2 linked regions of the Homo sapiens genome follow. The protein of the gene in region 1 purifies or fractionates together with the protein of each later gene. This does not show direct contact. Each region holds a gene or a part of one and is shown in the gene's direction. Other genes may lie near its edges.

What was found. The genes of interacting proteins can lie anywhere in the genome.
Region 2: the proteins of PRDM13 (region 1) and EIF4B purify together in Homo sapiens (affinity purification with mass spectrometry; one large-scale study listed by BioGRID and IntAct). This does not show direct contact.

Annotation. Positions count from the first base shown.
Region 1 is NC_000006.12:99,605,005-99,610,294, forward strand, and holds the start of PRDM13 (PR domain zinc finger protein 13), read left to right. Parts: upstream 1-1,828; 5' UTR 1,829-2,030; coding exon 2,031-2,174; intron 2,175-3,736; coding exon 3,737-3,868; intron 3,869-4,182; coding exon 4,183-4,303; intron 4,304-5,290. UniProt on the Homo sapiens protein: May be involved in transcriptional regulation. Is required for the differentiation of KISS1-expressing neurons in the arcuate (Arc) nucleus of the hypothalamus.
Region 2 is NC_000012.12:53,008,904-53,013,600, forward strand, and holds part of EIF4B (eukaryotic translation initiation factor 4B), read left to right. Parts: intron 1-4,697. UniProt on the Homo sapiens protein: Required for the binding of mRNA to ribosomes. Functions in close association with EIF4-F and EIF4-A. Binds near the 5'-terminal cap of mRNA in presence of EIF-4F and ATP.

The DNA of each region.
Region 1 (5,290 bases):
CCATGTATACACAGGCCCTGGAGTTGGCCCGAGGCCAGCCTTCCGTGTGTCCTCTCATGGTCTGACTTGAGATGCTTAGACTTGAAACCTTTGGCCTGGCCTGGATTTTCCCATTAGGCAAACAACCAGTTTTGGAGCTTCTAGAATGCACGCACTCTACAGATTGTTGTTACAAACCGAAGTGAACCACGGAGAGGAAGCAAAGGGTCTGTTTGTATCCATCATTCCCATTTTACAGACTGGGAGGCTGAGCCTCCGAAGCAATCCACTAAAGGTTCCCCGAGTCTTGAGTGGGAGAGCACAGGGTGAATGATCCTGAGTGTCCTGGTCCTGCCCAGTGTGGTGAACATAGGTTTCGAGTGAGGGGCACCACACGGAGCTTCTTTGAAGACCCTCCTCAGATAAACTGCTGAGTTGCAGGTGTCGCCACCTTGCGTCCTGCCACCCTTGCTAACCACAATCGCTCCAGCACTTTCAGCCGACAAAGCCTCGAGGAGAAGCTAGCGTGGGCGCTGCTGAGGGCCCTCTGCCCTTTTGTGCAGTGGTTGGGCCTCTGGCGCTAGGCTTGGAAATACACCACCACTCAGGCCTCTCTTGGAAGAACTGCATCGGGCTCCGGTGCTGGCTGCATAGGATTTGGGGAGCTGTGCTCAGAACTAGCAGCACGCGGCAGGTGCCGGCAGAAATCACAAATATCTGATGAACTTGATTACTTGGCTACTATTTATGAAAATAAATGTTCTCACGCCAATTGGAGGCTTCCCTAAAAGAAAACGGGTAGCTCTCCGGTTTAACTCTGAAGTACAACGTCTTGTTAGTTCACAAAGTAGGTGTAAGAAAGAGTTGTCCCAAACGCCCACCTCGCCCCTCTTCTCTACAACCTTTAACAGATTGCGGTGATTTTCGTTTTTGTTTACTGTTTTTTTTTTAATAGAAAAGTCCAGGTTGCTGGTTTTAGGGAAGTTAGTCCAAGGACATCTTCTAGGGGACGTGATCAATAACCCACTGGTAGAACTTCTTCCTCTTCAACCCTGGGCTGCGGACCGGGGCGCAGGATCCCCATTCGAAACTGTTGGTTCTGGGGCTGTTTCCCATTCTCCAGAGAAAGTGCAGGCCCGGGGTGTGCCCGAGAAAAGTGATGAGCAGTTGACCTCCCCTTCTCAACTTGGTCTGGAGGCTTCATCATATTTTCGGACGAAATGGGACAGAAGTGAGAATTAAAGCGGTTCTGAATAGACGACTGGCCTGAACCCAATCCCCTGAAATGGTAATATGGTTGTTATTTAAAAAGTGTAGGTATTTTCTGGTGTTTTCCCATCAAGTACCTGCCTAATTTCTGTATGGCACACGCCAGAAATCAATAGTAGTTAACAAGTCCTCCAAACAGTCTCCATCTCTTTGTTTAATCTCCTTTACAATAAAGCCAAGGGGAGAGAATTAAAAATCTTTGAAGTAGATCAAGGCTCAAAGGAATCAGCCAAGTAGACTTAAAGTAGTCACTTATTTCCCAAAACTGGTTTGTCGGGGAACAATAAAAGGAAGTAAAATTTATGGAGAAATTATACAGTGGATTTGTCACTTAAAATATCGTAACTGTCTGGAGGACAATACCCCATGCTGAGGATTAATGGTCCCGCCGGACCTTTGATTCACCAGTGCCTTTTCTTCGCCCTTGACAAATTGGATTTTTAGGAATGGGAAGGTCGCCTGGACCATTGTGTGCTAGCCATTCAGCGGCCTCGATTATGCAGGGGGCTGAGGGAACCACTCCATGTGACCCTCTCGGGTGGGACTCTGCAGCTGCTTCGCAGCGCAACTCTCTCACCAAACTCCGCGCCCTTGCGCTAGCGGTGCCAAAAGGCTCCCGCCCCGATTGAAAAGGCGCAGTGCATGCCCGCCCGCGTCACTCCGCGGGCGGAGGACGCACGTCGGGGCGCGGCTCTCTGGCTAGCGCGCAGCTCCAGCTCTGTCACTCGCGCCCTTCCAAGGACCTGGAGCACCCGAGCGCCTGCCTGGTGGCGGCGGCAACAATGCACGGAGCCGCCAGAGCGCCAGCCACCAGCGTGAGTGCCGACTGCTGCATCCCGGCCGGCTTGCGCCTCGGACCGGTGCCTGGTACCTTCAAGCTGGGCAAGTACCTGTCAGACCGCAGGGAGCCCGGGCCTAAGAAAAAGGTATTGACCATTCAGACCTCTGCCCACTGCCATTCGCCTCTCAGTGCCCTGACCCGGGAAAGGGGTACGAGAGAAAGTGGAGGAAGGGAGTGATTGAGTCGTTACCTGCTAATTCTGCCGGGTGGAAGGGGACTCCTATTATTCTGAGCAAGTAGCCTCTTTAACTGTGAGAGCTGGACGGGGTCGGGCTGAGAGGAGAGGATGTGGCCGAGAGGCGACAGCCCTGGGTGGGGTGCACTGAGCGCTGTAGGTGCCGGGACCATTCGCAGCTTGTGTTTTCCCCTGCGCTCTCGGGTCTCCTCAGTCAGAAGCCAGAAGCCCACCCCCGCACGCTGTCCGCAGCTCTCTCTGCAAAAGCACCCTCTTTCTGGGGGCTCAGGGCATCGAGACCCTTTCTTCCCTTCTGCCCTTCAATATGTTAATTTGAGGCCTAATTTCGCCTTAAAGTAATTTTTTTTCCTGAAAAAAAAAATCTTTGGGAGGCTCTCAGTTCCTAGAACCTCCTCAGATATTTTTTTTTCCCTTGCCGATGTCGGCTTGTGGGTATGCGGCATATGGAGAGAGGATGAGCAAGGTACTGGCTCTGACGCGGGCTCCAAGGGCGAGGCGCGCCCATTCGCGCGGGGCACAGGGTCAGAGCGTCTGCAGCGGGGCTCTGAGAGTCCAGAGGCCCAACCGGGAGGCGCCAGGGCCAAACCACTAGCTTTGACTCCCACACTCCACACACCGTCGCGACCCCTGACCAGAGAGACTTATAGCACTCGCCCGCTTTGGGGGCGTCCCAGGAGCCAAAGGTCGGCAAACAGCGACCGGGAAATGAAGGCAGAAGTCTGGGGTAGAAGAAAGGACTTTGGCTTCCTTGGCTTTAGCTTGCCTTGCTTGGAGCTTTCTAGTAAAAAGCTCCGGTGTCCAGCCAGCGGGACTTGCACCTCGCTCCTCCTGCAATCACGCCCCCCACTACAGTCTAAAGCGGGGTTTGGTGCCCACCGCGCATTCCTCTTTAAACGCGTTTTAATTGCTTTTAAATGGCCTGCCAGCTGCGGGCAAGCTTTTCCCCGCTTGGGCTTTGTTCCGAGACTTTAGCTGCAGGGCTCACAGGCAACTAGGTGCGATGCACACAGAATACAGGAGGCATGAGATAATTTTTTTGTTTGTTTGTCGGGGGTACGCTCTGGGCCCTGGGACTGACCTAGAAATGTCTCTACCGTGGTGTTACGGCTGCTCTCAGAACTGCAAATGGGAGAGCTGGGGTAGGGGACAACTTGGTACAAGATGTGCCTAAGCACTCAGGGAGGATGCTCTCAACACCCCTCTCCCCTCCCCGTGTCGTCAAGGTGGGGCGCAGGGAAGTGGGAGTACTGTTAGCATAGGTAGACTTTCCTCTTTCTCCCTCCCCGAAGCAAGGTCCTAAGGAATTCTCCTCCTCCCAGTAGCCCATAGTGGTCTGGCCAAACCAAAAACAACCACTTTCCTGTGTTGGGTTGGGGTGGAGGATAAACTTTCTGTTTGGGTTGTGGGCCTGGCCAAGGTGCGGGGGAGAACGACCACTGCTTGTGTTGCAGGTGCGCATGGTGAGAGGGGAGCTGGTGGACGAGTCGGGGGGCTCCCCTCTGGAGTGGATAGGGTTAATCCGGGCAGCCAGAAACTCCCAGGAACAGACTCTGGAAGCTATTGCAGACTTACCCGGAGGACAGGTACTGCGGGCTTCTCTCCACACCCCCCCACTCCCCACCGCCAATTCAGTCTACCTAACCGTCCCTGCGGTGGCCAAAAATATTAAGAGCAAAGTACTTTAGCTAGACGTCTCATTTAAACGTCTCGACAACCCTTTAAGGTAGTTACTATTGTTTTTCCGTTTGAAGGATGACGGAAGTGAGGTTCAGAGAGCTCCAGTAGCTTCTCCAGGGTCACACAGCATCAGAATCCGGATTTGAACCTTTCTTCTCAGTTGCTTTTTGACCGATTACCCAGGAAATGACATTGAACTGTTCTATTCCTTGCGTCCCAGATCTTCTACCGAGCATTGCGAGACGTCCAGCCAGGGGAGGAGCTGACAGTGTGGTATTCTAACTCCTTGGCTCAGTGGTTCGACATCCCCACCACAGCGACTCCGACTCACGACGAGAAAGGTACCCATTCCAAAAGCGTGGATGGGCAAAAGTCCAGCCCTCCTCCTCCTGTCTTGAAGCGAGTCCCTAGACATAGCTCGATCTATGTAAAATGGAATTCACATTCCCTGTATTTCAAGGCAAAGAGGAGAGAGGTCGCCACTACCTCCTTAAAATCAACCATAAACGATAACAGTGATAGTAGCAATCTGGCTCACAATGGCAGGGGAAAAAGTAGGCTCTATGAACTTAATGGGGCCATCCTTTTTCTGTTGCATATTCAAACAGACCATTATTTACTCAATTAAAATAAAAAAAATTAGGCGCGGTAGCTCACACCTGTAATCCCAGCACTTTGGGAGGCCGAGGTAGGAGGATCACTTGAGGCTAGGAGTTCGAGACCAGCCTGGGCAACATAGTGAGACCTCTGTCTCTACAACAAAAAAATAATTAGCCAGGTGCGGCGGTACATGCCTGTAGTCTTAGCTACTCAGGATGCTGAGGCAAGAGGATCACTTGAGCCCAGGAGGTCAAGGTTCCAGTGAGCCGTAATGTTACCACTGCATGCCAGCCTGGGTGACAAGTGAGACCCTGTCTCAAAATAAATAAATAAAAATAAAAAATAAAAAAGGAGCCTTAAGTTGTTGTTACAGTAATTACATCATGAGTTCCACAGAGTATAACTCAAACCTGGAATGCTTTTACAAAGTCCATGGACATTTCTTCTCCACTGGCTTTCCAGGAGAGCAGTGCATTTCTACAGCATTTTAGAAGTATTACGGTACTTACAGCTGGTCAGTTGGCAGGTACTGAGACCCTTCCATTTAAGTGGCATTTATTCATTTCCCCTTGCCTACTTAAGTTGAATCTGGGATGTATCCCAGTTTCTTCTCAGATTTATTTGATCCCTTCAAAGCCAAGAGCGGATTTATGCAAATTAAGGTGCAGTAACTAAACAGAAAAACATTTTTAAACCTACCCTTGAACACTGAAGAACACTTCCTGTGG
Region 2 (4,697 bases), on another chromosome or scaffold:
GCGTGCTTGTAATCCCAGCTACTCCGGAGGCTGAGGCAGGAGAATCGCTTCAATCTGGGAGGGGGAGATTGCAGTGAACCGAGATTGTGCCATTGCACTCCAGCCTGGGCAAAAGAGCAAGACTCCATTTCAAAAAAAAATCTTAAAAATACGAAGTTTTTCATTTTTCTTAAATTTTCATTGTGACTACTTTAGTAGACTTGCCAGTAATAAGCCAGTTACCGCTTGAATCTCAGTTTCTTTATCTGGAAAGTGGTCATTATTTATCTGCTGTCCCCTTACCTAGAGGGAATCAAATGCGTTTGATACAGGTTAACATTTAAAATGCTTTCAAATTGGGCAGGGTGCAGTGGCTCATGCCTGTAATCCCAGCACTTTGGGAAGCTGAGGTGGGTGAAACACCTGAGAACAGGAGTTCGAGACCAGCCTGGCCAACATGGTGAAACCCAGTCTCCACTAAAAATACAAAAATTAGCGGGGTTTTGGGCTGGGCGTGGTGGCTCACGCCTGTAATCCAGGAGGCAGAGGTTGCAGTGAATTGAGATTGCACCACTGCCCTCCGGCCTGGGCGACAGAGCGAGACTCCGTCTCAAAAAAAAAAAACAAAAACAAACTTTAAAATTGGAAATAACATATGTAAGCTCATGCACAGGCCTTTCATTTCCATAATGCTTCAAAATGCAGTCCTGTGTGACATCTTATTTGATTATTTTTATAGGGAGAAGATGCTCTGCAGTGGTTGTTTTCATACACTGCTGACTCTCACAGTGAAATGGTTTTAAGGGGTGCCATTATATATTGCTTACAGATTCCCTAGTGTCAAGTTCCATCCTCTATCATGTATATGTTATTCTGTGAGTAAGATACCCAGAAGGCCAAAATTAAAACTCTTTATGAAAGTTTAAATACAAATACAGAATAGTGTCAATTAAGATAAAGCAGTGTTTCTAAGTAATGTCATTGAAAAAAGAGGTATATTTCATCTCAAAACATTCTGGAATTCTCTTTTCGTGATGGTAGAGGAAATAACTGAACTTGAGTACAGTATTTTAAGTAATTATTTGTAATTAGGTTTGCCTTATGTACATTTATGAGCCAGTTTCTTAAATTTGTAGTAGATACTGCTATGGTCCTGATAGTGGGAAAGTACCAAATCAAGAAGTTTAACTTGAATTTGTGTACCTCCTGTCTCCCATTTTGTGTAATGGTTAGCATGGCATGCATTGGGCACTTATTTTGTTTGATTATGTATATGATCAAATTGAGTATCCCTGGAGGGATAAGGAAAAGGTAGTATGGCATCTTCTGTCAAAATGAAGTAATTGGGCACAGAGAGGTCATGTAACTGAACCCGTACGGGGGTCAAGATGGTGGAGCTTATGAGTTTTGACTCAGTCTTTACTATGCTAAACTTACCCAATCCCCAACTAAATCAAAAGGTGGCTTGCACTGGGATCTTTTTGACTTTACAATGGGTTTATCCGGATAGTAAATGCATTTTTTTACTTGAGAAGGGTTTATCCTGACAGTCTCATCATAAGTCAGGGAGCATCTATATAGTGCAGTAAAGGTGAAGGTGAAATATTGTATTACATTGCATGAAATGTCTTTTCATGGCTGGGCTGTAAACACCAATATAATTAGTCTAATTCTAGGCACTCTGGGTGGATCGATTGTGTTTATGCAATGTTGTTGGTTTAGGGAAACATTTGTTATTCATTATTTAAAGTAGCTTTTGTTTTGTTTGTTTTTGTTTTTGTTTTGAGACAGAGTCTCACTATGGCTCAGGCTGGAGTGCAGTGGCGTGGTCTCAGCTCACTGCAATCTCCACCTCCTGGGTTCAAGCGGTTCTAGAGATGGAGTTTCACCATGTTGGCCAGGCTGGTCTCGAGCTCCCGACCTCAGGTGATCTTCCCACCTTGGCCTCCCGGAGTACTGGGATTACAGGCATGAGCCACCACACCTGGCCTAAAGTAGCTTTTAATTATGGAGAATGTGGCAGAACTCACTTTTAGTAACAGCTTTATTCAATGTAATTTGTATACCATAAAATTTACACTTTTAAAGTATACAGTTTGGACCGTGTGCAGTGGCTCACTCCTGTAATCCCAGCACTTTGGGATGCCAAGGCAAGAGGATCACTTAAGCCCAGGAATTCAAGACCAGCCTAAGTAACATAGTGAGACCACGTCTCTACAAAAAAAATTTTAAAAATTAGCCAGGGGTGGTGGCATGTACCTGTGGTCCCAGCTACTTGGGAGGCTGCAGTGGGAGGATTGCTTAAGCCCTGGAGGTCAAGGCTGCAGTGAGCCATTATCTCACTACTGTACTCCAGCCTGGGTGACAGAGCAAGACCCTGTATGATTTGGTGGGGTTTAGTATATTCAGAGATGTTCAACCATCATTATTATCTAATTTCAGAACCTTTTTATCACCCCCAAAGAAAAGTCCTTTATATAGGACTAACAATTCCTTTTCATTTATCTTTTTATTTATTGAAGTGAAACATCACTTAGAACATGGTTCTCAGCTAAGGGACAGTCTTTTCATCCCAAACCCTCATCCCACCCCAGAGCATTTGGCAGTGTCCAGAGACGCTTTTGGTTGTCAGAGTGGAATGGGGATCGGGGATTACTATTGGCATCTAATGAGCAGAATCAGAGATAACTGCTAAAATCCCCCCATGACAAATTACCTAAGCTAAAATATCAGCAGTGCTGAGATAGAGAAACTCTGAGTTAAGAAGTAGGCTGTATTTATTTTAGTATCTATTATAACAAATCCTGTTTATTAAGAAAACCATGAATGTGTTGTCTCTTGTTTAACGGCTTCTGGACTTAGCAATATTTCCGTTTTTAAGATCTTTTATTAAACCTGTATGGGTATATAAAGAGCTGGAGGTGTGTTTTCCCCACTGTAGACCATGTATAAATAATTGGGACAGGTTTTGTTTTGTGAGGTGATTGATTTGTTAACTTTTTAACCAGTTCACATAAGATTTAGAGAAAATTAAAGAATTGGACCAGTTCATTGTTGAATTGCAAAGGATTGATAAACCTGGAGCATTAAACAGTGCTTTACTTATAAAGCAGAGGGAACACTGTTGAAATCTAAACATGTAATGGGCCTAGGTATTGAGGGAGCAAAGGGCATGGAGGATTTAGATAACATCTTTTCTCAGTTAACTGGAATGAAACGGAGTGGAACAAACACGGGCACCTACTTTAGGTTTATTGATTTTGCTTTCCAAGGGCTAATTCCTTTAAACCTGCTGCTTATATTTTGACTGAGTCAGTGCTGCTGCTACAGTTAAATAAGTTGAAGATCTTGTAAGGAATTTTAGCCTGTTTTTTTAAGACTCATCTAACAGGTGGGGCGCAGTAGCTCAGGCCTGTAATCCCAGCACTTTGGGATACAGAGGCGGGCAGATCACCTGGGGTTGGGAGTTGGAGACCAGCCTGACCAACATGGAGAAACCCCATCTCTATTAAAAATACAAAATTAGCCAGGTGTGGTGGTGCATGCCGGTAATCCTCGCTACTTGGGAGGCTGAGGCAGGAGAATCGCTTGAACCCGGGAGGCGGAGGTTTCGGTGAGCCGAGATTCCACCATTGCACTCCAGCCTAGGCAACAAGAGCAAAATTTCTGTCTCAAAAAAAAAGACTTATCCAACAGTAATTTCTTTTTTTTTTCCTTTTTTTTTTTTTCTTTTTTTTGTGGGGGACGGAGTCTCGCTTTGTAGCCCAGGCTGGAGTGCAGTGGCACGATCTCAGCTCACTGCAAGCTCCGCCTCCCGGGTTCACGCCATTCTCCTGCCTCAGCCTCCCGAGTAGCTAGGACCACAGGTGCCCGCCACCATGCCCGGCTAATTTTTTTGTATTTTTAGTAGAGACGGGGTTTCACCATGTTAGCCAGGATGGTCTCGATCTCCTGACCTCGTGATCCACCCGCCTCGGCCTCCCAAAGTGCTGGGATTACAGGCGTGAGCCACCACACCCAACAGTAATTTCTTAACCAGAGGGCCTGGGAGTGGGTGGCAATCAGAGGAGGGGGAGACTTGTGATTTGAAAAGACATTCTAAGATTTAAAAGTGCTTTTAATATTTTTTAGTCATGATATTTAATTTGTTTGGAAATTTCAAATAACGTTAAAGAAGAAACTTGTTTGTCAAAGGAGTCAAGGGGTGAGAGTTGAGAAACTGTGATCTACAAAGTTGATTTAAGCCAAATCGGACTAAAGGGCAGATTAATTCCACATTCTGCTGTTTTGGTAGAAGATACGTATATAGAACAAAGAGGAAAGGGATACCTTATTCAGATTGTTAATGTTCTTTTGTTGAACTTGACCTTATTGTACTGACCACCAGTTCTGTTTTTATCCTCCCAGTGGAAGGACAGGTTAATAATTGGATATTAGCTGATGGTACTAGATTAAGCCCCATGAGGGTAAGGATCTGTAGCTAGCATCATATTAATCCCAGACACTATTTTTGAATTAAATGATATGAAAAAGTCTAAAATAAGCCCACGCACTGTAAGTGGTTTACCTCATGTCTTACTCGTGTTCGCTTATTAAAATCTCCCATAGATCTTTGCATATGAGGCTGGGCACAGTGGCTCATGCCTGTAATCGCAGCATTTTGGGAGGCCGAGGTGGGTGGATCATTTGGGGTCAGGAGTTTGAGACCAGCCTGGCCA